Homo sapiens: one gene and its partners. The protein of the gene in region 1 interacts with the protein of each later gene in a pairwise test. Each region holds a gene or a part of one and is shown on either strand. Other genes may lie near its edges.

Evidence for each region.
Region 2: the proteins of ARL4A (region 1) and EVI5 interact in binary tests that used the Homo sapiens proteins (3 or more experiments, as listed by UniProt).
Region 3: the proteins of ARL4A (region 1) and POF1B interact in binary tests that used the Homo sapiens proteins (3 or more experiments, as listed by UniProt).
Region 4: the proteins of ARL4A (region 1) and CYTH2 interact in a two-hybrid assay, tested with the Homo sapiens proteins (one study listed by BioGRID).

The regions. Positions count from the first base shown.
Region 1 is NC_000007.14:12,683,500-12,690,652, forward strand, and holds the start of ARL4A (ADP-ribosylation factor-like protein 4A), read left to right. Parts: upstream 1-4,133; 5' UTR 4,134-4,229; intron 4,230-4,666; 5' UTR 4,667-4,755; coding exon 4,756-5,358; 3' UTR 5,359-7,153. UniProt on the Homo sapiens protein: Small GTP-binding protein which cycles between an inactive GDP-bound and an active GTP-bound form, and the rate of cycling is regulated by guanine nucleotide exchange factors (GEF) and GTPase-activating proteins (GAP).
Region 2 is NC_000001.11:92,698,102-92,705,139, reverse strand, and holds part of EVI5 (ecotropic viral integration site 5 protein homolog), read left to right. Parts: intron 1-395; coding exon 396-585; intron 586-1,218; coding exon of another isoform or gene 1,219-1,299; intron 1,300-1,307; exon of another isoform or gene 1,308-1,403; intron 1,404-1,520; coding exon 1,521-1,745; intron 1,746-2,924; coding exon 2,925-2,999; intron 3,000-7,038. UniProt on the Homo sapiens protein: Functions as a regulator of cell cycle progression by stabilizing the FBXO5 protein and promoting cyclin-A accumulation during interphase. May play a role in cytokinesis.
Region 3 is NC_000023.11:85,369,661-85,376,698, forward strand, and holds part of POF1B (protein POF1B), read right to left. Parts: intron 1-7,038. UniProt on the Homo sapiens protein: Plays a key role in the organization of epithelial monolayers by regulating the actin cytoskeleton. May be involved in ovary development.
Region 4 is NC_000019.10:48,479,339-48,482,822, forward strand, and holds the end of CYTH2 (cytohesin-2), read left to right. Parts: 3' UTR 1-2,976; downstream 2,977-3,484. UniProt on the Homo sapiens protein: Acts as a guanine-nucleotide exchange factor (GEF). Promotes guanine-nucleotide exchange on ARF1, ARF3 and ARF6. Activates ARF factors through replacement of GDP with GTP.

The DNA of each region.
Region 1 (7,153 bases):
TATGATTAGTATTTCTTCAAAGTGTCTAATCATTAATTATCTGAAATACTTACTTAAAATACAGATCACTGGCTCCTCTCCTGATGATTCTGATTTGGGGGGGTCTGAAATAGGAGGAACCAGGAATCTATACATTTACAAGCATTAACAGGTGATTCTCATCATTAGCCAAGTTTGGAAAACCACAATTAAAGGTGAGGTTCGCAGAGGCCCTAGTGCCTCAGTACTTTTTCATGGTACCTCAGGCCAAAATAAATAGCCAACATTTCTATTTATGAAATTGATAGATCCAAACTTGATAGTTGTAGTTGTTAATATGGTCCAACAGATGTCACTGTGTTTCCCTCAAAAAGTTAAACTATCCCACAGAACCCCTAGGAATTCTGAGGCACCCCAGAGCACTATTTACAAGCTACAGGCCCTAAAGGGAATTTTTTTCTGGCATAGAATGTAAGTAAAAGCTCTGAATGGGCCTTCTATAAGATCAGGCAACAAAGTGAACCTTGTGTTCCACAAATTCCATTGCTTTTAATATCATTTGTTGCTGTTTTCATATGGTTTTTATATATAGAACAGGCACACCAAACATTTTTCTACAGAGGCAGAGAGCACATTTATTTTGTATGTGTGTGTTGTGGGGGGCATAGATGATCTTGATTGCATATTCTTTTCTTATCCATTCTCTTGCAGCCCTTTAAACTTGTAAAAACCATTCTTATCTCCTGAATTTGACCTACAGGCTGCAGTTTGCCAACCACTACTGTAGTTTTAAAACCTAGGGTATAACATTAAAGTGCAATTCAGTGAGGACGATTCTGCAAGATTGGAAGCCCTCAGTGTTTTTGTTTTCCTTTTTTCCCTTTTTGCTCCAGGGAAGACTGTGCAAGGAACACTGGAAGGACTTAGAGATTTCAAAACTACTGTAAACAGAGGGTGGCCACAGAATTTTCTTGCTCTAAATTCTTGACTTAAGGAGAATCTGCAAGTTATCCCAGTTTAATAAAGAATCCCTATTGAATTTCCAATAAAAGGAAATAGGTTATTGCACTAAGCCCTTTATCAATTATTAGCTGATTATGTGAATGGCTAATGAGATTTCACAATTATAACTAATCAGGCAATCCTTAGTTTATAATAGATTCATGTTTATAGAATATGCCATTTGATATTTCTAGCTCTTATTCCCAAAATTAGTGTGGCTGTCTTGAGATTATGCATTGTGCTCAGAACTTAGGTTTTTACGTCGTTTTTTGTTTTTGTTTTTGTTGTTTTTGAGACGGAGTTTCGCTCTTGTTGCCCAGGCTGGAGTGCAATGCCGCTATCTCGGCTCGGCAACCTCCGCCTCCCGGGCTCGAGCGATTCTCCTGCTTCAGTCTCCTGAGTAGCTGTGATTACAGGCGCCCGCCACCACGCCTGGCTAATTTTTTGTGTTTTTCGTAGAGATGGGGTTTCCCCACGTTGGCCAGGTTGGTCTCGACTTTTTAAAGAATCCGGTATGACAAGTATGCATGTTCCTGTGCTAGTCATAAAAGAAATAAATATCACTGGCAATAGCGGTCTTGAGAAAAACTAGGATATTTCTTGAGGAAACTCCAATCCATATTTAAAAAGAAAAAAAGCACACTTTTAAAAAAGTGTACCATATAGGTTCTTCCAAGTTACAGTCTTACAGCCTTCACCAAAAAGATGTTTGTCGATTAAAGCTTTCCTACAACTTCAAGTCATTACTTCTTTTGCAGGTTGTCATAAGCACCCTGAAATTACCGCTGAAAACATTTTATAAATTTAGTCATCCATAGAGACTCCAATATTCCACAAGGGCAGGGACAGTGTATTTTGCTCACCATTTTATCCCCAAGCACACAGAATTGTGTCTACTGCCTATTAGGTGTTCAATAAATATTTGTGAACTTATTGATCAAAGACAAAATTTAGTCAGAATCATCCAATGAAAAGCATTTTGCATTTGATGACTAGTAGACTTAGATGAACAGTTCCAGGACCACCACTAATTTTCCTTGGGTCATTAGAAACATCCCTTTGGGGCTGCGGAGAGAAAATCCAATCTGGCCGCTGCCCCACAGCCCCTTTCTGTTCTGCGCGTTTGCCTCGCCGTTCTGATGGAGGAGGAGGTGGAGGTGGAGGAGCAGCAGCGATTTTCTTAGCCATTTTCTTACCAACAGAGGCCAAAGGAGGCAGCAGTGGACTACACTGTGGGTTGTCTTTGCGAGGAAGTGGCATTGGGCAGAGATGCAGTTCAGCAAACTTATCATTGCAGCAATTTCGGAGCTGACTTTTCGACAGTGCAAGATCTAGAAATGTGTGCAAGACATGCGAAAACCACCACCATTAACACTGAAGATGTGAAGCTCTTAGCCAGAAGGAGTAATTCACCGCTAAAATACATTCAGACAAAAGTGAAGAGCTTGCGCAGATTAACCTAGAACGAAAGGCACAGAAGACAAAGAAGAGGATGGAAACAAAAATGCAAGGGAGCCAGCAGAGGCTGGAGTACAGGAAAGTTAAGAATTAAACTCTCCCGCTGCTTGGAAAATGCAGCTTTCTGCAGGTAGAGCCACCTAGTATGTATATGGCCACAAAGGGAATTTTGAAGGGATAAATAGAGATTAAAAAAAAAAAAAAGGCTAGATGGCTTTTTGTGTTGTATTTTCCAAGTCGTTAACTGCAAACGCTAGTTTTAAAGAGAACTGGACACTCAATCAAAATACTCCTGTCTCACTCCAGCACATACAAATGGTGTAGTTGAATGGTATATTGGAAATTATATCTATTGCAATTAAAATTGTGTGAGCAATTTGAAAGAAAAGAAAAAAAGAAACATCCCTTTCATCTTTCAGAGTGTATTTCCTTATGTGTCAAACTGGAATATTTCTATCTGTGGCCAGTTCCCCGGGATGCTGCTAGAAACACGTGAGACAGCGCGTTCATTTGCTCTACAAAAAGCGAATGAAGGCGCAGTTACCAGGCCAGTCAACCCAGGCTGTTTAAGGTCAACTACTGGGGGACTTCCACGTCACCTCGATATATACGTAACGCGTGTGTGCCGTAACCCGTGAACTATGGAATCCCTAACCGCGAATCACGTGGCTGCTGCCCCGCGGACGCCCTAGACGACGTGAGGGAAGGCGGTGCCGGGCGGGGCCTGTGCCAGGCTGGCGGGCCGCCGCAGACAGAGCTACCCGGAGCAACCGTTCAGGGGTGAGGCCGGAAGTCCCATCCGACCTCGCGGGCAGCCAGCGCTAGGCCGATTCGAACTCGACCTTGTTTTGGCGTTGCTAGGAGACGCGGCTCCTGCGCGCCCCCTACAGGCCGGCGCCCGGGCGGCGCGCGGGCAGGGGGCGGGGACTGTCGCGTGGAGCTGCCGGGCGAGCACCGTTAGGGCAGCCTGGCGCGCGGCGCCCGCCAGGCGCCCAGTCCTCTGCCATCGCCCACGCCTCCCTGGTGCCAGGGAACAGGTATCAGCGCGCCTCCCCAGCGGCTGGGAGAGACGCTGAATGAAGAAGAGGGAAGGACGGTTAGTCAGGTGAGCCGCGGCGGGGTGGGCGGCCGGGGCGGCCACGCCCTGCCGAGGGAGAAGAGCCGGTCGTGTGCGGAGGGACAGGGTGAAGGGATCCCACTTCGGGGAGGATGGGCTTATCCCGGCGGGCGCGCCAGGTGGGATCTCTAGCGCCTCAGGGGCCCGCGCGGCAACAGCCGGCACCCTCGGGCCCGCGGACAAAGGGTTAACGCGTTGGCAGTGACTGCGGGCCCCGGATGTGAGAGCCTTGGCTTGACGCCCTGGCTGCGCTGCAGGTGCGCCGGGCCGAACGGAGCCGGCAGCCTGGCGGCGACCTGACCGCCCGAGGCTCCCCTTCACCTGCAGCGGCTGCTCGGCTCCCTCTGGGAACGCCGCCTTTTCTAACTTAAGGGCAACAGGTGGTGCCGGTGGACCGAGAGAGAGCTCAGCTCCGCCGCGCTGGGAGCGGCAGTTACCCTCACCAATTAGGGAGCGGGGGCGGGAGTTGCATGGCTTCCCTGATGCGGGTGACCAATGGGATTTGGGATCATGAGTGGACCGGGAGGAGTGGGCGTGGTCGGAGTCTGAGTCCAAGGTTTCTCGTGCGGCAACTGCCAGAGCTGCTTGGAGAGCTAAGCTGGAAGGGTGCTTATCCCTGCGTAGAAACGCCTGCCAATGCTTTCTCATTTGGACCCAGACTCCAGATCGGGAGGTGAGAACGTTGTTATTTTGCAAGGGGTAGGAGGTAATAGTGATCTTGGGTATGCTGTTAAGCATGTGGAATTAGATTCCGAAGATAGGACTATCTGCTATGAGTTTTCTGCCAGATAGGCACTTTGTGGTTACGGCCACTTAGACCAGATACTGGTGACTGGGTTCTTTCCAGAATGAGGTCTTTGAGGTTTGGGGACCCAGGAGAAAAACGTACATATTACTGCAATTTAAGTAAACCAGATAATTTCAATCACTGTTATTCCATCGTTTGTCTTGGACTGTGTGTGTTTTCATGTACGTTTCATATCTCGTCTGGTTTGTTTAGCGCAGCAAGTTATAGTAAGTTCTTCGTGTTGTTTATTTTAGCAAAGTAGAGCAAACCTGTTTTAATGTATTATTTCGGGAGAATAACTTATTCCTTCTTCCGTCTCCCAGCAGTCTTATAGCTGGATCAGCTACCAAGAGAAGTTGTAAACCAAGAAGAGAAAAGCATTTCAATTTGGGACATTTATTTGCACCTGGAAATGGGGAATGGGCTGTCAGACCAGACTTCTATCCTGTCCAACCTGCCTTCATTTCAGTCTTTCCACATTGTTATTCTGGGTTTGGACTGTGCTGGAAAGACAACTGTCTTATACAGGCTGCAGTTCAATGAATTTGTAAATACCGTACCTACCAAAGGATTTAACACTGAGAAAATTAAGGTAACCTTGGGAAATTCTAAAACAGTCACTTTTCACTTCTGGGATGTAGGTGGTCAGGAGAAATTAAGGCCACTGTGGAAGTCATATACCAGATGCACAGATGGCATTGTATTTGTTGTGGACTCTGTTGATGTCGAAAGGATGGAAGAAGCCAAAACTGAACTTCACAAAATAACTAGGATATCAGAAAATCAGGGAGTCCCTGTACTTATAGTTGCTAACAAACAAGATTTGAGGAACTCATTGTCACTTTCAGAAATTGAGAAATTGTTAGCAATGGGTGAACTGAGCTCATCAACTCCTTGGCATTTGCAGCCTACCTGTGCAATCATAGGAGATGGCCTAAAGGAAGGACTTGAGAAACTACATGATATGATCATTAAAAGAAGAAAAATGTTGCGGCAACAGAAAAAGAAAAGATGAATATCAATACCTATTATATCTGTGTGGAGTAGGTTTTCTCTGGTCTGATTTTGACAAATAGAAGAGTGTCTACAGCGTGGTTTGCCTGTCTGCCCTCCTGGATGCTATTAAAGCTTTGTTTTGTTGAACAATCAGATGCCCAACTCTGTTGCCTTGTGGAAGATGAGTAAATGCAGTGCTTCTTAAAGTGGTCTCTTCTCCCTACCCCACAAATCTTTTGGTACTACCATTTGGGGAAGCCAAGCAAGGATAGTAAATTGACCAGAACACAGTTGTGGGAATTTGGTCTGAAGTTAGTGAAATAAAACTTTAAAGAGTGTCTGCCTAGTGTTTTGTGCTTACATCTTTCGGGGGGAAGCCTTTGCAAGAAAATTGCATACAAGGCTTTGTAACGATCAAGTGCTAATCGATGGAAATGTTAAGGTAGATTAACATATATGCAGTTATATTGATCACATTGGTCCAACCAGTCCTTTTTTGAAGTAAGGGACAAGGAGTAAGTATTTTCTTTTTTAAGTTTCTGCCAAATGATTTTTGACGCTTTCTGGAATCAAGTAATTTAATAGTATAGCTTAATTCTAGACAATGTTTAAGTTGGTCTACCTTTATTAAAAATAAGATATTTGGGGTATATTCAAGTGCATGGATTAGTTTTCCTGACAAAGCATGTTTTGGTGTGTAGTCTTACTTTTTAGAAATAGCTATGCATCGTTCTACACAGGTTTAAAACAACTTTTTTGGGGATTTAGGGCTATTATAGGAATAGTTTGTTGTCAGAAGCACTTTCACTTGAAGAACCTAAAATGATTGACTCATTCATAGTAAATATGGGCATGTAAACTAATAAATATGCACTGGATACATATATGGATTTATGAAGAAGGCGATTTAGTCAAGAGGATGTAATTAAAATATGTGGTCTCTAAAATATTCCAGTTACAAGATATTTGTTTTATTAATATTTGCTGGCTAAAAACAAATGTGGTTTTTATATATTTTTGTAGTGTGTTGAGAAGAGCAAAAGCTTTATAAATATACCTGATGCGCTGTAGAATGAAAATGTAAAAGATAACCTGTATGTGTTCCGAGCTTTAATTTTTTGTTTACAAATTGAACAGTGTTACATGGGCTGTCCAGTCCTGATTATAGAGAGGAAGAAATGGTAACAGTATGGCAGATAAGAATTACAATTATAGAAAATGAGGGGAAAATAACAAACCTGTTTTATGAAAATTCACTGGTGCTGTTTACATTGGAATAAAAAGCTCTATAAGGAGGAAAGGCCTTTATCTAATTCTTATCTACAGACACTTACTTCCAGTGACCATATTTTACTAAATCAGCTTATTTTTTATGTCTAAAGCAACAGCTGTTCTGAAAAATCACCAAAAGAAATGCACTTTGCTAGCAGGATTTGTTTTGGCTTTGGGTTTTGTTTTTTTGTTTTTTTTTTTTTTCAGTGGCATAACAGTTTTTGGAACCTTGATTCTTGTGTCACACAAAATGAATGAAGTAGCTTGATGTGGAGCCTTCATATGTTAAATATTCCTGCACTAGTGATGGTCACTTAGAATGTTTATAGAAATGTGGATAATAACTACCAATAAACTACTTGAGGCACTAGGAGAACAGTATTTGACTTTGAATTTTAATGTATTTCCACTTTTGCTGAAGCTTTTAATCAGATGTGTAAAAACAATTGACCAGCTAGGCTATTTAGTCCCATAGTAGTTCAGATCTGCTTAGATGTGACAGGCATTGAAGGCTGTTTTTTTTTTTTTCTCCCTTCACTGAT
Region 2 (7,038 bases), on another chromosome or scaffold:
CATTGTAAACGTTTTAGGATTGGTTATTTCATAGATTTGTTGTACCTCTTCCAAGTATAAGTTCTTTTTTCCTGAAGCCTACCCAAATACTTTTCTCATCAGATTTCCCCTAATTTGAATTTTTAATGGAGACGAAGGGAAATTATAATGGGGCTAGTAGCTCAAAAATTTTTAACGTAATTTGCTTTTTCAAATTTTCAAACTGCTATAATAGGTGAAAAAAATATAGCAGTAATTTTATTGATGTGACCAAAATTTATTTAAATTATGTATATTATTAAAACTATATTTTAAAACAATGGTTAAATTGCAGTAATAAAGCTCTAAGTATCATCAATGCCTCTTCTAATATCACTGTCCGATTAGATCTTGAACAGTTTTTAATTATATTTTAGATTGTTAGAAACGGATAGTAAGTCTTTAAGATCTGTAAATGGGTCAAGAAGAAACAGTGGCTCTTCTCTTGTGTCGAGTTCATCAGCCTCTAGCAACCTCAGTCACCTTGAAGAAGATTCTTGGATTCTTTGGGGAAGAATTGTTAATGAATGGGAAGATGTACGCAAAAAGAAGGAAAAGCAAGTTAAGGTATTCATGTTCTTTGTTGAAGTTCTTATTCTTATTCCATAGTGCGTCAGACATAACTTAATAGAGGATTGGGAAAAAAACCCCAAATACAACTTCCAAGCTATATATTAAAGAGGTCTGCTTTATTTGTTTTCACTTACTTGTACCCCTAAAAGTTTTAATTTGTAGACATCAGTTGTTACAGAGGTCCTGATCATATAGAAATATATAACTGAAAATTATTTTATTTACTTATTATTATTTTATAAAGACTCACTTTGTTGCTCAGGCTGGAGTGCAGTGATGCAGTCATAGCTCACTATAACCTCGAATTTCTGGGCTTAAGCTGTTCTCCTGCCTCAGGCTCCTGAGTAGCTATGATTACAGGTGTGTGTCACCACACCTCGCTAATTTTTTATTTTCCTTTTTGTAGAGATAGGGTCTTGCTTTGTTGCCCAGGCTGGTCTCAAACTCCTGGCCTCAAGCAGTCTTCCTACCTCCGCCTCTCCAAGTGTTGTGAGCTACTACACCCGGCCCGAAAATTGTTTTAGAAATTAAATTCTCTCATTTTATTGATTCAGAAATGAAGTTGTGATATCCTGCATTCTTGAATAACAGTATTTTCCTTTTTTTTTTTTTTTTTGCCTTCAACAGCCCTTTGAATGTTGGGTACTGTACCATCATTCACAGCTCTGCAGGTTTCAAGTCCATTACCTTAAGAGGTCACACACTGAGGTGAAATGATCATTATTAATCCCCTGACCAGAAGAGGATACACCCAGGGCCCAATCTTACCCTTGACTTACAGGGTTCCCTAGTCTTATTATAAAGCTAGCTTTGTGAGTTACAAATTTAATGATGTCTTCTACTTCATTCCAACCCCCTAATAAGTCTTCCTTGGCTTGCAAGATAGGACACTTAAATAATTCATTTTTGTAATTTTATTTTATTTTTAGGAACTTGTTCATAAAGGGATACCCCATCACTTTAGAGCAATAGTTTGGCAACTTTTATGCAGTGCACAAAGTATGCCAATTAAGGATCAGTATTCAGAACTCCTGAAAATGACCTCGCCTTGTGAAAAATTGATCCGAAGGGACATTGCTAGAACTTACCCTGAACACAACTTTTTTAAGGAAAAAGATAGCCTTGGACAGGAGGTTTTATTTAATGTAATGAAGGTAAGTTTTATTTATTCATTTTTTGAAATGAAATGAATTCCTGGAAGGTTGAAATTATACATTTTTCATGATGAAGCATGACCTCCCACCACAATAATCAGTTGCTTTGGCAGTGAAATTGGTTTTAGCATCATTTTTGCCTTAATTCTTATGCTACATTACTATCTAGTATAGAGAACTTGTTAGAACATTTACTACGTTATTTAGCATTAGTTGATGGAAATGGAATAGCTTAAAAGTCACATATCATAGAGGGATCCTCATGAAAAGGAATAATTCACCATCTGTGAAGTTCAAAACCTGGGATGTGGGTTTCTCCTATCATATCTGTGTTCCTACAGTGAGCAAATTTTTCTGCTTTCTATGGCCAGCACTGTTAAGAGCACTTAGCCCTTGAAAGGTGTACCATTGTCATTTTTTCTTCAATATTGCCATTTCCCTTCCCACAGTTACTTTTTCTTTTAGCTACTTCTTTGAAATACTGACTTCTTGTTAAATCATTTCAATTTCGCCAATCCTTTGCCTTAAACCTAGTCTAGTTTTATATACATCAATATAAATTTTACTTGAATTTTTTTTTTTTTTTTTGAGATGGAGTTGCACTCTTTTTGCCCAGGCTGGAGTGCAGCGGTGTGATCTCAGCTCACTGCAACCTCCACCTCCCAGGTTCAAGCAATTCTCCTGCCTCAGCCTCCCTAGTAGCTGGGATTACATGCGCCCGCCACTACGCCCAGCTAATTTTTGTATTTTTAGTAGAGACAGGGTTTCACTATGTTGGCCAGGCTGATCTCGAACTCCTGGCCTCAGGTGATCCGCCTGCCTCTGCCTCCCAAAGTGCTGGGATTATAGGCATGAGCCACTGTGCCCAGCTCAATTTTACTTGATTTTTAAGCCCTGTTACAAATTCCTTTATTTTATTTTATTTTATTTTATTTTATTTTATTTTATTTTATGTCTTTAGAGCTAGCAAGTTTGGATTGGGAAATTGTCAAAATAAAATTTCATGTAATAAAACATTTGCTTTTTAAATATGTATAGGATAACATCTATAACAAGCAAGCAAGAGCTTTTCTCAAAAATAAATGTTTTTTAATCTGTCTGTCTTGCCAATTTTAGGTTTTTTGGAGAAGGAAGGTATAACTTACCATGTATTTTGAACAACTTTTTTTTACTTTTTAGGCTTACTCTTTAGTAGATCGTGAGGTTGGTTACTGTCAAGGAAGTGCTTTTATAGTTGGATTGTTGCTTATGCAGGTAAGTTAATATAAGTATTAAATGTCCAATGAAATTTTTTATTAAGTTGGATTGGAGAGTTTAAAAAGCATCTTTGTTTTATTAAATGTAAGTGGATATGGGTATTTTTTCCTAGGCATAATTTGAATACAAATATTTAGTTTGCATTTTAAAAGATTAAACATGTTAAAATAACATAGTAATATCTTACCACCAAATGAAATTTCAACTTCATGATAGATACATTTTTACTGTAATATTCTACTAAAGCTTGAATCTACAGTAGTTTAAAATCTTATTTGTTAACATTTAATGAAGAGTAATCTTTTTCTAACCAAGGAGGAAATAATTAAAGTGTTGGTAAGAAAATCTTATTTATATTGTACAACATCTTTAGAGATTTATAGAGAATTTAATTTATCATGGAGCTAAAAGCTTGTTATGCATACCTCACTGCATGCCCTAAAATAGTGGTACTCAGCCACTTTTACCCCCTAGGGATATAACTTTGTTATTGAGTGTGCAGTGGGTTTGGGTGGAATGTTTTCAGAATTCGGGGGTAGGATAATCATAGCTTTGAAGGGAAATGGCATATAGTATTATCTCTTCAGCTTTGTTGAAATGTTAAGTCCATCTTACTCTTTATTTAGTCTCAGATTTTAGTCCTGAAAAGGAATCATGGAGATACTTGGTTTGAGTCATATAGGGTGGTTTTGCAACTCAGTTCTGCACATGCTGTATGAATTTAGGCTAGATTATTTAACCTCTCTCTGAGCCTTAGTAAGATAATACTATCTACTTTCAGATTAGTTGTGAGGGTTATTTGAGGTAATGTATGTAGAAGCCTAGCATGGTGTTTGGCTCATAGGAGATAGGCAGTGAAAGTTCAGTGGCTTACCCAAGATCACACATCCTGGTAGATAAAAGCAAAGTAGGAATCAGAAACCGTTTCCTGATGCTTTGCTTCAGCTTCCCAACTGCTTTGAGTTTTAAAGCTCTTGTTGCTGTCAGGAGTATACACTTTTCTAAGTAGAAGAGACCTGATGTCAGAGACACTGATTTATAATAAAAATAATTTTTACTTTGTGTTACAGCATATATAAGAACACATAAGAAGTGCTCCCAGTGGTTATTGATTTCTAAGTGGAATTAGGTTATAAATAATACAATGCAAAACTAGATTTGTTAATGTTAAGGTATAGTTGTTTAACAAAATTATGATTTTCCAGCTTTGCGCAGTGGCAGTATCGTAGCCAGTGAGGTTTATCCGAGGCGCAATTATTGCTAATTGAAATTATGATTTTCCTACTTTATTTAGTATTGGTAGATCCTTCATTATTGAACTCAGACATCCTTATTATCAGTCTAGTGATTTTTGCTGCTGTTCTATTCCTTTTATTTTCCTGTTAGCTCCACAATAACCTTTTAGTAGTCATTTCTCTTGGGCATCTAAAGAGCAGTTTTTCTCTGCTTGAGGTCTGAATCTCTCAACAGCTGACCTAGCTCTCTAGGAATCCTGTGGATCCTGTGAATCCTCTAGGAATCACAGTTTCCTTCAAGACAGGGCAAGCAGTGGTGGTAGAGATATTAACTTCAATAAGTATTATTACCACCATTGGAGTAATAAATAATATTTTGGTGATTGATCTACTTAGCTGTTGTCAGTGGCAGCAGTATATTAACACAAGAACAGTAGTCACTTATGGCCCAGGGCCATAAGGTAGAAAAGCTCCTCTTTTTGTTTCTAAAGTTTATGCCGACACCTTATGCTATATTCTCCCATAACTTCAGTTTAGAAATGTAACTCAGAGAGTCTGATAAAATTTGCAAAATTAGTACATACTTTATCAAAATGGTTAGAAGTATGTATGTTTTGTATATATCTCACTCCTATAATATTAGGTATATTGTCTGCATTAGACCTTTGCAAAAGACATGGATTCTTATCAGCTCAGAGTCACAGAGAAAGTTATGTAGCAGCACATTGCTCTAGGACTCAAGTGTCTTGATTTCTTTCTAATGGAAAGGAATGACTATAAAACAACTTGGTGTATGCCACTCCGTGTCACATTTTTTCATTTTGTCACCATGGTTTCAATTTTTTTGAGAAGGACCTAGTGATACTTTTTCTGTCTCCTTTTCCTCTTTTGTCAAATTACCTCAACTTATTTTTTAAAATGTTGCCATTAAAAAAAATTCTCCTCTAGTTCCCATATCAATGCTATTGCAAAGAGGAGAGGGAATGAAACTTGTTTTGATATGTTCAGAAGAGAAGAAATTGTTGTAAGACAAAAAGGGAAATTATAATTACATACTGCATAATGACATTTTGGTCAACGGTGGACTGCATGTGTGATGGTGCGCCCATAAGATTATAATACCCTATTTTTACTTTGCTTTTTCTATGTTTAGATACACAAACATGTGCCATCATGTTACAGTTGGCCTACAGTATTCAGTACAGTAACATACTATACAGGTTTGTAGCCTAGGAGCAATAGGCTATATAGCATATAGCCTAGGTGTATAGTAAGCTATATGGTATAGGTTTGTGTAGGTGCACTCTATGATGTTCGCACAATGATTAAATCGCCTGAGGACATATACCTCAGTAATCTCTGTCCCCTTCCAGTGCTGTGGGAGAGAAAAGAGAAAACAACTACCTTAGGAGAGAGCCAGGTTTCAGTGTTGAAATATTCTTAGGGGAGATACAGATTTCAGCTAAAGAAAGAGAGGAACATTTGGAAAAGAGATTGAGGATATAGGTAGACTATTCTGTTGATGGTAGGATATGGGTTCCAGAAAATGCTGTGGAAAAGATTTAGGAAAGATTGGAAATGGGGTCAGATTAGGAGAACAGTAAAATCATTTAGGATGAGAGTCCTGGGATTTGGGGCTTCTCGTAGTGACTGACATAATTCAGTGGGGCTGTGGGGCTTGATAGAATTAATAGAGATAGTCTCCTAAGTAGAATTGTGGCCATCTGTGTTGAGAGGAAGGAAGAAGTGCAGGTTTTGCCAAGAGTGACTCTTGGCCCCCTGTCCGTGGCTGTGTCAAGGCCAGGAAAAATGTCTTGTTATTAGCAGCAGTCTTCAGTAAGAAGAAGGCCTGGAGATCCTTTGGGATGTTCTCTTTTGAAACACACTGGTATAACGGGAATGAATGAGAATTAGCAAATTTTATTATTTTGAGAAAGATGGTTTAACAATTTGGATAGTTATTTGCCTAAGTATTCTGAATATCTTTGTAGCTCTTTACAGAGCTTTCACATTCATTATCTTATTTGATATGATTTCCTAGTGATTTACACATAAAATGTGAAATTGGTACCTTTAAACCCCAATTTCAGATAATGTGAAAACTTAATTTATATGTCCTTTTAATACTTGTACCATGTCATATGATTTTTTGCTCAGAATCCTCAAAAATCCCTCTCTCTCACTTAAGGTAAAAGTCGAAATCCTTACAGTGGCCTCTACAGTCCTCTGCATTTTGGTTCCCTGTTATTTCTCCTCCATGATGTAACCTTCACTCATAGTATTCTAATTTAGTAGTTCTCTATTTGCTGTTTCTTGAGCATGCCAAGTGTGATTCCATTTTAGGACCTTTGTACTCTTTGGTCTTCTGGAACTGTTCTTTCCTCAAATGCTCCCTTGCTTTCTTCAGGATTCTGCTTAACTGTTACCGTATCAGGGGACCTTTCCTGATCTATATCAATAGCCGTGTGTCTCCCCAGCATTCCCTACTTTATTTTATTTCTGTAGCATCCATCACCATCTGACATATATATTAGTTGATTTATTCCATGTCTTGTCTGTCTCCCTCCATTAGAAATTCAGGTTCCTTGAGAATAGAGATTGTGTTTATTTTGTTCACTGGTGTATACCCAGAGAGAGAAAAGTATCTGGCTGTAAATCAGTATTTTGGGTTGAATTAATGAATGAGGCAAGTTGAGGCAGTTGGTTTCAGAGGTTGTAAGATTTGTTTAACTTCTCATTCTTGGTGATAGAATGGGAGACTAGAACTTTCTGATTCTTACCTCATTGCTCTTAACATTGCA
Region 3 (7,038 bases), on another chromosome or scaffold:
CTGCTGATTAACATTTATATTGTTTCCAGGTTTCCACTGTGCTGCAATGAGCATCCTTGTGCAACATGTTTCTTTAGAATCCCACACAGAATTGGGATTGCTGGGGCATGGAGTATGTGTGTTATTCATTTGAACAGATACTGCCCAACTAATTTCCCAAATTTGACTATGATAATTATACATCCACCAGCAGTGTGTGAAGGTATTCATGTCTAGAGGATGTTTGGTCTGTTTAGGCTGGGGCTAATAATATTATACTAGTATCATTCTGAGAAGACAACTATACACATGGTTAGTATCTGGTAGCTGTTGTAGAAATGATAGCTCTGTCCTTCTTGTAACCAATTCAAATATGATGGCATTAGCAAATGAAACATAGCAAATCTTACTAGCCAACTGGACTAGCTTTTAAGATACAAAAGCGTACTAAGAAGTTTTATAAATCTGCAGAAATTTAAACAAATAGGAATACACACACATCACACATCACAGATAAAGACATTTATTTATGCTAGTATAAGCAGTATTACTTTATTCAGATGTTAAGATAATAGATGTTTAAATGGCAAACAGTTGTATTTGAGCAAAGACTAGTCTTGCCCTAAAATGAAGGAATTCTTTAATCTTCTTATATGTGGAAAGCTGGAACATTAAGTCCATAGATTATAATGTACTCAATTATTTTTAGCCCTACTTCAGCCTTCATTATTAAAATTGATCATCTAGACAAATGTGGCTTTCCCACGCAACCCTCATGGAAACATTAGAGAACAAATATAATAGGTTCAAAAATTACAACATTAAGATGTAGCTTAATATGAGTCAAAGATATTTAGACATATGGTGTTGAACAGCATGAATTTAAATTGCATCAGTATGGATTTAGGCTGATCATAAGGGGGAAAACCTCTCTGAAAATAGGTTTATTAATTCCAGAAATACTTGCTAAAGAAAACCCCTTTTCCCTGGAAGTCTACAAAATTAAGTAAGATGGTGTGAGTAAATGTCCAGAATGAACAAAACCTTGATGTTGAAAGGTACTTTCAATGGCATCAAGATCTAGGCAAGATTGCAGCAAGTCATCCCATAAATAGCCATTGACCATTCCATAGAAAGTGATCCAAAATATTTTTGAAAGAATGAATGAAAAGGAGATCTTAGTTTTAAAAGCACTCCAGGAATAACAATCCAAATCTCCCTCTTAATAACCTGTATCAGTCAGTGTTTAATTTTGTTACTCATCTGTGTATAGCTTACCTAAATCCTTCATGTTGAAACTATTAAATTCAATGAACAGTCAATGTTTTTGTTTTTATGCCTTTTGTGCCACAGCCCCACATTCCTGATGACCAAATAATTGAAGGCGATAATGGGGTGGTGGTGGTTATCATGACATAGTGGAAAAAGTGCTAGACTTGGAGTCAGCAGACCTGGATTTTATTCCCATTTATACTACTAGCCACTTTTGTAATACTGGTCAACTCATGTTCTCTCTCTGAGATTTGTTTCCTCATGTGAGAAATGAGAAATGGGATATGGGTGTGGGCGAGTGTGGATTAGAGGATCTTTAAGTTTGTTTCTGACGTTCTGTGAATATAAGAGACCATTCCCAACTTATTTTTCCATACAAACAAAACAATTTCAAATTTTTTAAACTTGTCAGTATTGTTTTCCTTTTGATGATGATTATAATGATGACTAACACCTATTAATAGCTTTCTGTGCCAAACATGTTACATAGATCATTCTCTTTAACACTCAAAATAACCCCATAAAGAAGATACTATTATAACCCCATTACATAAACAAGTGAAGTTAGACAGAGGTAGGATAGGTAACCAGATGGAGATTACACAGCTAATGCTAAGGTGCTGGAATTCCAACTCAGCATGACTCCAGAACTCATGCTCTTAATCACCATATTTTGCCACGTTTATTGCTTGCTTCATTATATTTTCTGTTTTTCAAGTTGTGTAACCTAATTATATGGTTAAGTTTGACTAGTCCTTATAACAGAAGGTCAAATACTGGGACTTTTAAAATTATTCAGTGTCAAAAGCAACTTTGGAGGCCTGAAAATAAGACACCCACCCACAAGTAGCTGTGTGAGAGAACAGCCTTGATTAGATAATTTAAGTTTCCATAAACTCAATAGAATTTGTAAAACGCGTGGTACATTTACAGAGTGTACTCACAAGCCTCTAAAACTCAATAAACCATTGAATTTTTGTTTAATGCTCATATCATCTAATCTCTTCAATTTTGCAGGAAGACCTTACTTTTTCTGATAAAATATTCAGCATTTTGTTGAGTCGTTTATTCCTGTGGGTCAGACTTGCTATATACACAAACATTATACTTTATTGGCAACTTTAAGTAGAGTCTGGTGAAAAAGAATTTGGGGCCGGGCGTGGTGGCTCACGCCTGTAATCCCAGCACTTTGGGAGGCTGAGGTGGGCGGATCACGAGGTCAGGAAATCGAGACCATCCTGGCTAACATGGTGAAAACCCGTCTCTACTAAAAATACAAAAAAATAGCCGGGTGTGGTGGCGGGCGCCTATATTCCCAGCTACTCAGGAGGCTGAGGCAGGAGAATGGCGTGAACCTGGGAGGCAGAGCTTGCCGTGAGCCGAGATCGTGCCACTGTGCTCCAGGCTGGGCGACAGAGCGAGACTCTGTCTCAAAAAAAAAAAAAAAAGAAATGAAAAAGAATTTGGTTTATAATTATGTGGGCTTGGGGATAATTTCATTACATCACTTGAGATAATTGTCCATACCTTTGTACACACTAAATCTGAGCTAGGAAACTCTGGTTTCCCTAGAGAATTCATTATTCATAAAAGTATATCTTATTTCCACCTATTTGTTAAAAAAGCTGTTTTCAGGGGAACATCACACACAGGGGCCTGTCAGAAGATGGGGACCTAGGGGACGGATAACATTAGGAGAAATACCTAATGTAGGTGACGGGTTGATGGGTGCAGCAAACCACCATTGCCCGTTTATACCTATGTAACAAAACTGCCCTTTCTGCACATGTACCCCAGAACTTAAAGTATATATATATATAAATATATTTTATTCATATTTATATATATTATATTATATATACTATATATATATATACTTTAAGTTCTGGGGTACATGTGCAGAAAGGGCAGTTTTATATATAAGCTGTTTTCAGAGTTAAATCAGATGATGTGCAAATGGCCTAAATGTCTCAGTTATTTACTTTAGTGAAAATGCTTTTGAGTAGCTCAGTGCAGTAAAGAAAGAAGGGAAGGCAGAAGCTCAAAAGGTGTTATTCTCCTTTGAAAGAAAGAAAACCTTAAAAACTTAATATATACCCTGAATTCTAGGATTATTTCTGAGCAAGACCTTGAAAACTAGAGGGAAAACTATTTTTGTCCTCTAATGTATTTTTGATATTTTCCATTCTGATAATGGAACATTAGAATGGGAAAATATACAGTAAGGGTAATCATCAAATGTTTTGTTGAAATAAAAAATGTGAACTAATTTAAACTGAAATCATGAATATCGAAAGTTAATTAAGGGAGATAGCTGATGTAATGAAAATATCAGGAGCTGGTTTTTAAACTCAGGGCATTCACTAACCAGCTGTACTAAATAGGCAAGTTATTTTGAGCTATTCGAGTCTCAATTTCCTTATTTGTTTAACAGATAAATAATACACAATGAATATTGTCTTTATTTGTACATCGTACAATTTGTACAATAAACATAATAATGCATGTTTTATCTAATTGTTGAGGTTCTATCAAGTTGTTTACTAGATAATCATATACATGGAAGAGTTGTGAAAAACAAAAAACCCATGTATTAATATGAAATATTATTTTCACTGGATTGATTATATATGTGACTAAGTTACTAACTTGCAGTTTCTTTACTACTTATTGTGTAGTGGCATTGAAAGAGATACAAATGATGTTAGAATATAATCTCTACCCTCTCATGGTTATAATCATGTAGGGCATAAACACTATGAGTACAAATAGGAATTAAGTAGACTATCATAAGACCTATAAGAAGCTCACTAGGTAAGTTTTGAGGGCTAAGAGATAACTTCAACCTGGGACAATCAGAGGATCAGAAGGTTACACTTGAGGAAAGGCTTGAAAAATTTGTATAATTTCAGGGTGTCTAGATTGGTGAGGGTGAGGAGCAGGAGCAGTTCAGATGTAAGAGCAATGGAGTGAAAGACATAGCTGTGGAAAATTGGGGACTTTATTTAGAGAACAATCATTTACACTTAGCTAAAACATAGGACACCAGAAGGAGAGTTCCAGGAAGTTCCACAGGAGCCCTAACATGGAGGGCCTTGAAAGTCAGACTAAGCAATTTATAGATACTTAGTGTCATTGAAGGTTTTTGCAGCAGAGGAGTGATATGGGATGTGTATAGGGAATTTAAGCAACTTTTCTAGAGAACATATTCTTAGGTGTAATTAAAGTTGTGGAGATTTTAAAATTAATATTCCTAGGGACTCCAACTAGACTGCTTCATAGTTCTATTCTGCCAAAGTTCACCTCATGATTGCATATTTATTTACAGCTCTTCCTGAGACATTCCACATAGACCTTTTTGGGCATTTTCTTCATACAATTTTCTCTGCAATTGGTCTTTAGACTGCAAAATCTGAACCTCTTCAGTCAAGACCTGTTGGCTTCATTTTCCTGTTGATAGCTGTGGTCAAAGAGCTCAAAAGCCTGGTGTAAGACATACAAGAAAGACTGAAGGTAATGAGAATTAAATCATAGAGAATATTACATACGTAGTGCAGGCTTTGTTTCTAAATATTTGGAAACTTGCTAACATGAAAGTATAACTCTTTATGTTGTCTAATTTGAATTTTAAAACTTTACATAAAGACTAATATACAGTATAATATTCCATGAAGGAAAACCATGGAAGGTTTGTGTATGCTCCTGTTACTCCCAATGACTATGAGAATCACTGAAGGTAATAATGGTGAGTTACAAATACTCTAGGCTGAACAGTTTCAAAAGAAGCAATATCTTTAAAAACCACCTGACATTTATGCTGACAGAATTTGCCAAGGCAAACCTCCATTTGAATAAATTCCCTGAATAGTATGGGAGATGTTTTTGTTAGGATCTTTCAAAGCCATGTAACATAGTTAAACACCTGTCTGAGGTTATTGTTGAGATGTTATACTCAACTTATATAGCAAGAAACATGTTATTTATAATAATCTCTCTTTAGATGAAATAAACACTTCTTTGATTTAGGATAAAATCTGTGTTTCTGTTGTCATACAAAGAAAGCAACCGAATGTATAATAGAACTACTTCCTGTTCCTCCTTCTCTCCAACCCAAATCCCTCATTTAAGAGGTCCATATTGGGTTCTTTCTCTTCTTTTTCTGAAGAAAACTAGGAGACAGAGAGAAAATAAAATACACAGTCTTTTTTGCAGTGCATGCTTTCTGTCTTTAAAAATTATGAGTATATATACTTTATTGAAAATCAAAAAATGACCTCTACTGGGATAGCCCCTGGTCTGAAGAAAAAGTTGGCTGAAATATATTTATTAATAAAAGTTTTAACTTTTAAATAGGGCTTAAGAGCATGGCAAATTTCCCAATTGTTTTGTCATGAATTGTCAAGAAAATAAACTTGAAAGGACAGTTTCCCTCTCTTCCACTTGCCACCCTCATATCTTGCCACACACACACCGTGACAGCTTATGAGTGCCTTTGACTGAAAACAGGCCCAGCAATTTATCAGACCTCCGTTAAACAAGATACAATTGCCATGGGCATTTTCACTCAGCAATTAGTTGCACTCTCCAATTTCTATAGCTTCATTTAATTGTAAGCACAAAAGAGGAGACCAAAGCTGAAAATGCAACCCCTTTATCCTATGACCTCATTCTTTTTTCAGGCAGCGCACTTCCTTGAACAATCATTCACTTTAGTGACTACGCCCTTGAACAACAATTTATCAAAGCAGCACACCCCTCCCCACAGAACGGGAAACTTTTCTGATAGTGGAAGAGAAGAGTTATCCACAATCTTTGCAACCAAAGAAAAAGCACAAAAAAATCATATAAACAAAGGTAAGCCCCAGCTGAATAATTGTTGAGAACAGAGGTCATTCGTAAACACACATTTTCCCCCAGGCTGCTCTCTAGAGTTTCTTTGCAAGTTTCAAATTCAAAAGAATGGCAACCCTTATAACATATACACTAAAATAATCCTTCTCTCACAAAAGCATGTTTTACTTGATAAAATGCTGATGGTCACAACACAAAATACTCCTTTAAAATGAAATATAGATAGACACATGGGACACCTACAGACCAGGCTCTGTATGTCTGTCCTAAAAATGAACTCTCCCTGGACAGGTTAATGGTATTTATCCAGAAAATCACAGTGTTTGCTAAAAAATAGGCACTTAATAAACATGTATTCAGTGAATGACTGGTATTTAAAAATATTTTATTTTAATCCATTTTTTCTCTCTCACATTTTTTCTCTCTCATGTATACAGCTGCTCTGTATGCATGAAAAATACCTCGAACTTCATGAAAACCTTAATTAGTGGAAGGAAAGAATGTTAGCCCAATGAGTAATTCATATCAATGTTGCTCATTTAAGGCATTTCATTTTGAGTTAATGATGGTAGGTTAACAGCTAAGCTTTGTAAAAGATTGAACTAAGAATTTTTGTTTTACTTTAAGCTTCTAGAACTCTATTTATTTGCAAGACCACATTCAGTTCTAAAATGCATCTGAGACCTTGATTATATCTGTGTTTGACTATACGTGTTCATGCAGATAAACCCAGTAATTTTAATTCTACCATTAATTTAGAAAATTTCACCAGCAACTGGTTTCTACACTTAATTTTCTCTGAGAAACACTCTATCAATCAAACAAAATAATAACCAAAAAACATAAAATATATGTTTAATTAAAGAAACAAAGTAACATTATATATCTAGATAAATTTAAAATATGTTTATATCCATAAACACCATTTTAGTGCAC
Region 4 (3,484 bases), on another chromosome or scaffold:
TTTGTAATTAACACGCTGTTGGTAATCTTATTAATTATTTAACCACTTGGCCTGCTGACCCCCTCATTTCTTGGGGTTGACAGAGTCGAGGTGCTCCGTGGAGCCAGCCTGTTTCCCTGGACAGGGGCCTGGACCCGCCTGTCTCTGGGTGCTGCCTGGGCTGTCCCGGTGGGTCTGTTCTGGTTTCACCCCGAGCCCAGCAGGAGTGGAGTAAAGGGAGAAGGTTAATATGGTGGGAGTCTGGAGTTGGAATTGGCCGGGGACAGAGTTTAGAATGCAGGGATTCAGGGTCAAGGTCTAGCATTCATTCTAGAAGTTACTTGACAGCCATCAGCCAGTTACGCTACAGCCATCAGCTAGTTCCCATCGTTGCTTTCATGGGGCTTGAGGTCTTTGAGGGGCAGGAGATGAAGCTGGTGAGGTTGTGAGCTGGGCCAGGGCTTTGAGGACAACCTGGAGCTGGAAGAACATGCGACCACCTCAGGGAGGGTCAGGGAAGGATGAGTGGGGAGGTGGCCCATGTCCTGCAAGGGCCTTGCTGATGGGATGTCCTGAAGGGCTGGGCAGCCTTAGATCGGGCTAAGAGGGCAGGACTGTGGGCCAGTGCCAGAGCCAGGCTTGTCTGTTCTCAAAGGATCAGCCTCCTTTGGAGGACATTTTGTGTCAAGGATAGGGCTGAGGACCTGCGTTCTGAACGTCTTTCCTGGGATTCTTGACAGCCAAAGAAATTCGAGGATCGCCTCTATGAAGGTGAAGTCTTGGCATGTGGGGTACCCCTGAATCCTGGGCTAAGGTCTGTGACCTTTTGCCCTCCAGTTGGGGTATGTGTGGTGTCCCCAAAGAACAAGGGCTCGTGGATCCCGAGCAGGGTGCGATGGCGGATTGGGAGGTCCCATGTCACTCTCCCATGCCCGCCTTTGAAGCTGAGGCGCTCTTTAGTTAACAAACTACAAGTCCCAGCAGGGACCGGGACGCGGGTGGGAGAGGCGCCTGTGGCCCCGAGGCGTGCCGCGAGTTGTAGTCCCTCCTGCCCGCTGTGTTCGCTTTTGAGCTCTCCGATGGGATGCGGCGCTTCGGAATTTCGGGCTTTGATCCCTGTCCCGCCCTTGGCCACAGGCACCTGCCGGCCTGAAGGCCCCCGCGGTGGGGGTACCCTGCGCCCCTCCGCGGGAAGGTGGACTACAGTTATCGGCAGGCTGTGCGGCGCCAAAGCCACGGTGACCCAGACCCGAGGTTTTTCCGGGCGTCGCAGTTTCCCGAGACTCCGTGGCGGCGTTTGTCTTCTTTTTCTTAGTCAGATCCCGTACTTTTGTGGAGGGTAGAGGAGGCTTTGACCGCCGCGGCCCCGGGGGCTGGTGGGAAATGGAGTTCCAAATGAGAAAATAGAATTCCCCACTTCTCTTTCCCACAGGTGCCAGGGAAACGGAGTCATCGACCCAAGAAGGTCGTGGGAGATGAGGTCCCAGGGTAAACAGCGGGTCCCGCCACTATGTCACCCTTTCCTGCCGCCTCCCCGGATGAACTGCATGCAGGGCGGCCGGCTCCGTGGCAGGCAGAGGCAGGAAGAGGCGCGGAGCCCGCTGGTGGCGAAGAGGGGAGTGCGGCGGGAGGGGAGGGCAGAGGCAGGCGGCCGGTCGCGTGGGGCCTGGGCCGCCCCAGGAGGGCCTCTGGCTGGATTCTTAGCAGATGGAAGCCGTGCAAGGGCAGGAGGCAGGGGCCTGACGTGTTTGGATTGAGGTTGCAGGAGGGGCCCCTGGCTGCTTCAGGGAGAATAATTTGGAGGCGAGCGGGGAGGTGAGAGGAAGCTGTGCGGTGCAGGATGGCGTGGCTGTGGAGGTGGAGAACGTTGGGCCACGCTAGGAGTCTTGAAAGAGGAGCCAAAAGGACTTGCTGAGAGCCGCCGCAGCTGGTGAATGACGGTGCCATGACTGAGGTGGTCGAAAGGGAGTATTTAAGGGGAAATCAGGCATTCCGTTTTGACCAAATTAAGCTGGAGATGCCTGTGGAACATTCCAGCCAGGCTGCATCACGTCACACTGACCTTCAGCATTGCCCACAGTCCATCTTCCCCCAGGACCTGAGGATTTTGCGTCCGGCTCCCTCCTCGCCCAGGACCCCCAAGCTCCCAGCACGCTTCTGATTTTTTTTGTAGGTTTTTTTTTTTGTTTTTTGTTTTGTTTTGTTTTGTTTTTGAGAGGGAGTCTCACTTTGTGCCCTAGACTGGAGTGCAATGGCGCCATCTCGGCTTACTGCAACCTCCACCTCCCAGGTGCAAGCGATTCCCCTGCCTCAGCTTCCCGAGTAGCTGGGATTACAGATGTGAGCCACCGTACCCAGCTAATTTTTGTATTTTTAGTAGAGACGGGGTTTCACCATATTGGCCAAGCTGGTCTCGAACTCCTGACCTCAGGCGATCCATCTGTCTCAGCCTCCCAAAGTGCTGGGATTACAGGTGTGAGCCACCGCGCCAGGCCTCAGCCCACTTCTTTTGGGTGGCAATGGTTTGGATATCGTTTGTCCTCACTAAAATTCATGTTGAGATTCGAGCCCCAGTGTGGCAGGTGTTGGGATGTGGGGCCTCATAAGGAGCTGTGTGGTCTTGGAGGTGGAGTCCTCATGGATAGATTAATGCCTGCCTTAAGGGGTGAGTGAGTGCTCACCCTTGGGAATTTGGGAATTTGGTTTTCTCTCCCTTGCTTCCTTCAGCACCATGTGATCTCTGTGCACACAGCTGCATCCTTCTGCCCTCCCCCAGAAGCAGCAGCAGCCTCAGGGATGAGGGAGGTCCTCAGTGAGTGCACCTGCCCAGTCTTGAACCTTCCAGCCATCAGAATCTGAGCCAAATCAACCTCTTCCTTTATAAAGACCCAGCCTCAGGTCTTCTGTCAGAGCAACACAAAATGGACTCAGCACGGATCAAATTGTGTCTCCCCCACCCCCACAAAAAACTTTATATTAAAATCCTAACCCCCAGCATCTCAGAATGTGATCTGATTAGGAAATAAGGTCATTGCAGATATAATTAGTTCAGATGAGGTCATTCATGTGGGCCCTAATCCAATAGGATGTGTGTCTTATAAAAGTTTGTACAGAGACCCAGACACACAGAAATGACACCATGTGGAGGTGAAGGCAGAGATTGGGGTGACGCCTCTACAAACCGAGGAAAACCAAAGCTGCCGGCACACCCTCAGAAGCCAGAGACCGGGGACTCATCCTCCCTCACAGCCTCAGGAGCAGCCAGGGCTGACACCCTCATCTCAGACTTCTGACCTCCAGCACTGGGAGACCTTCAGTTTTTGTGATTTAAGCCACTAATTTTGAGGTACTTTGTTATGTCAGCCCTAGATAACTAACCACTCCTCCCTCAGACCCAGGAGTCCAGGCCCAGCCCCTTCTTCCCTCAGACCCAGGAGTTGGGGACCCCGGCCCCTCCTCCCTCAGACCCAGAAGTCCAGGCCCCAGCCCTTCCTCCCTCAGACCC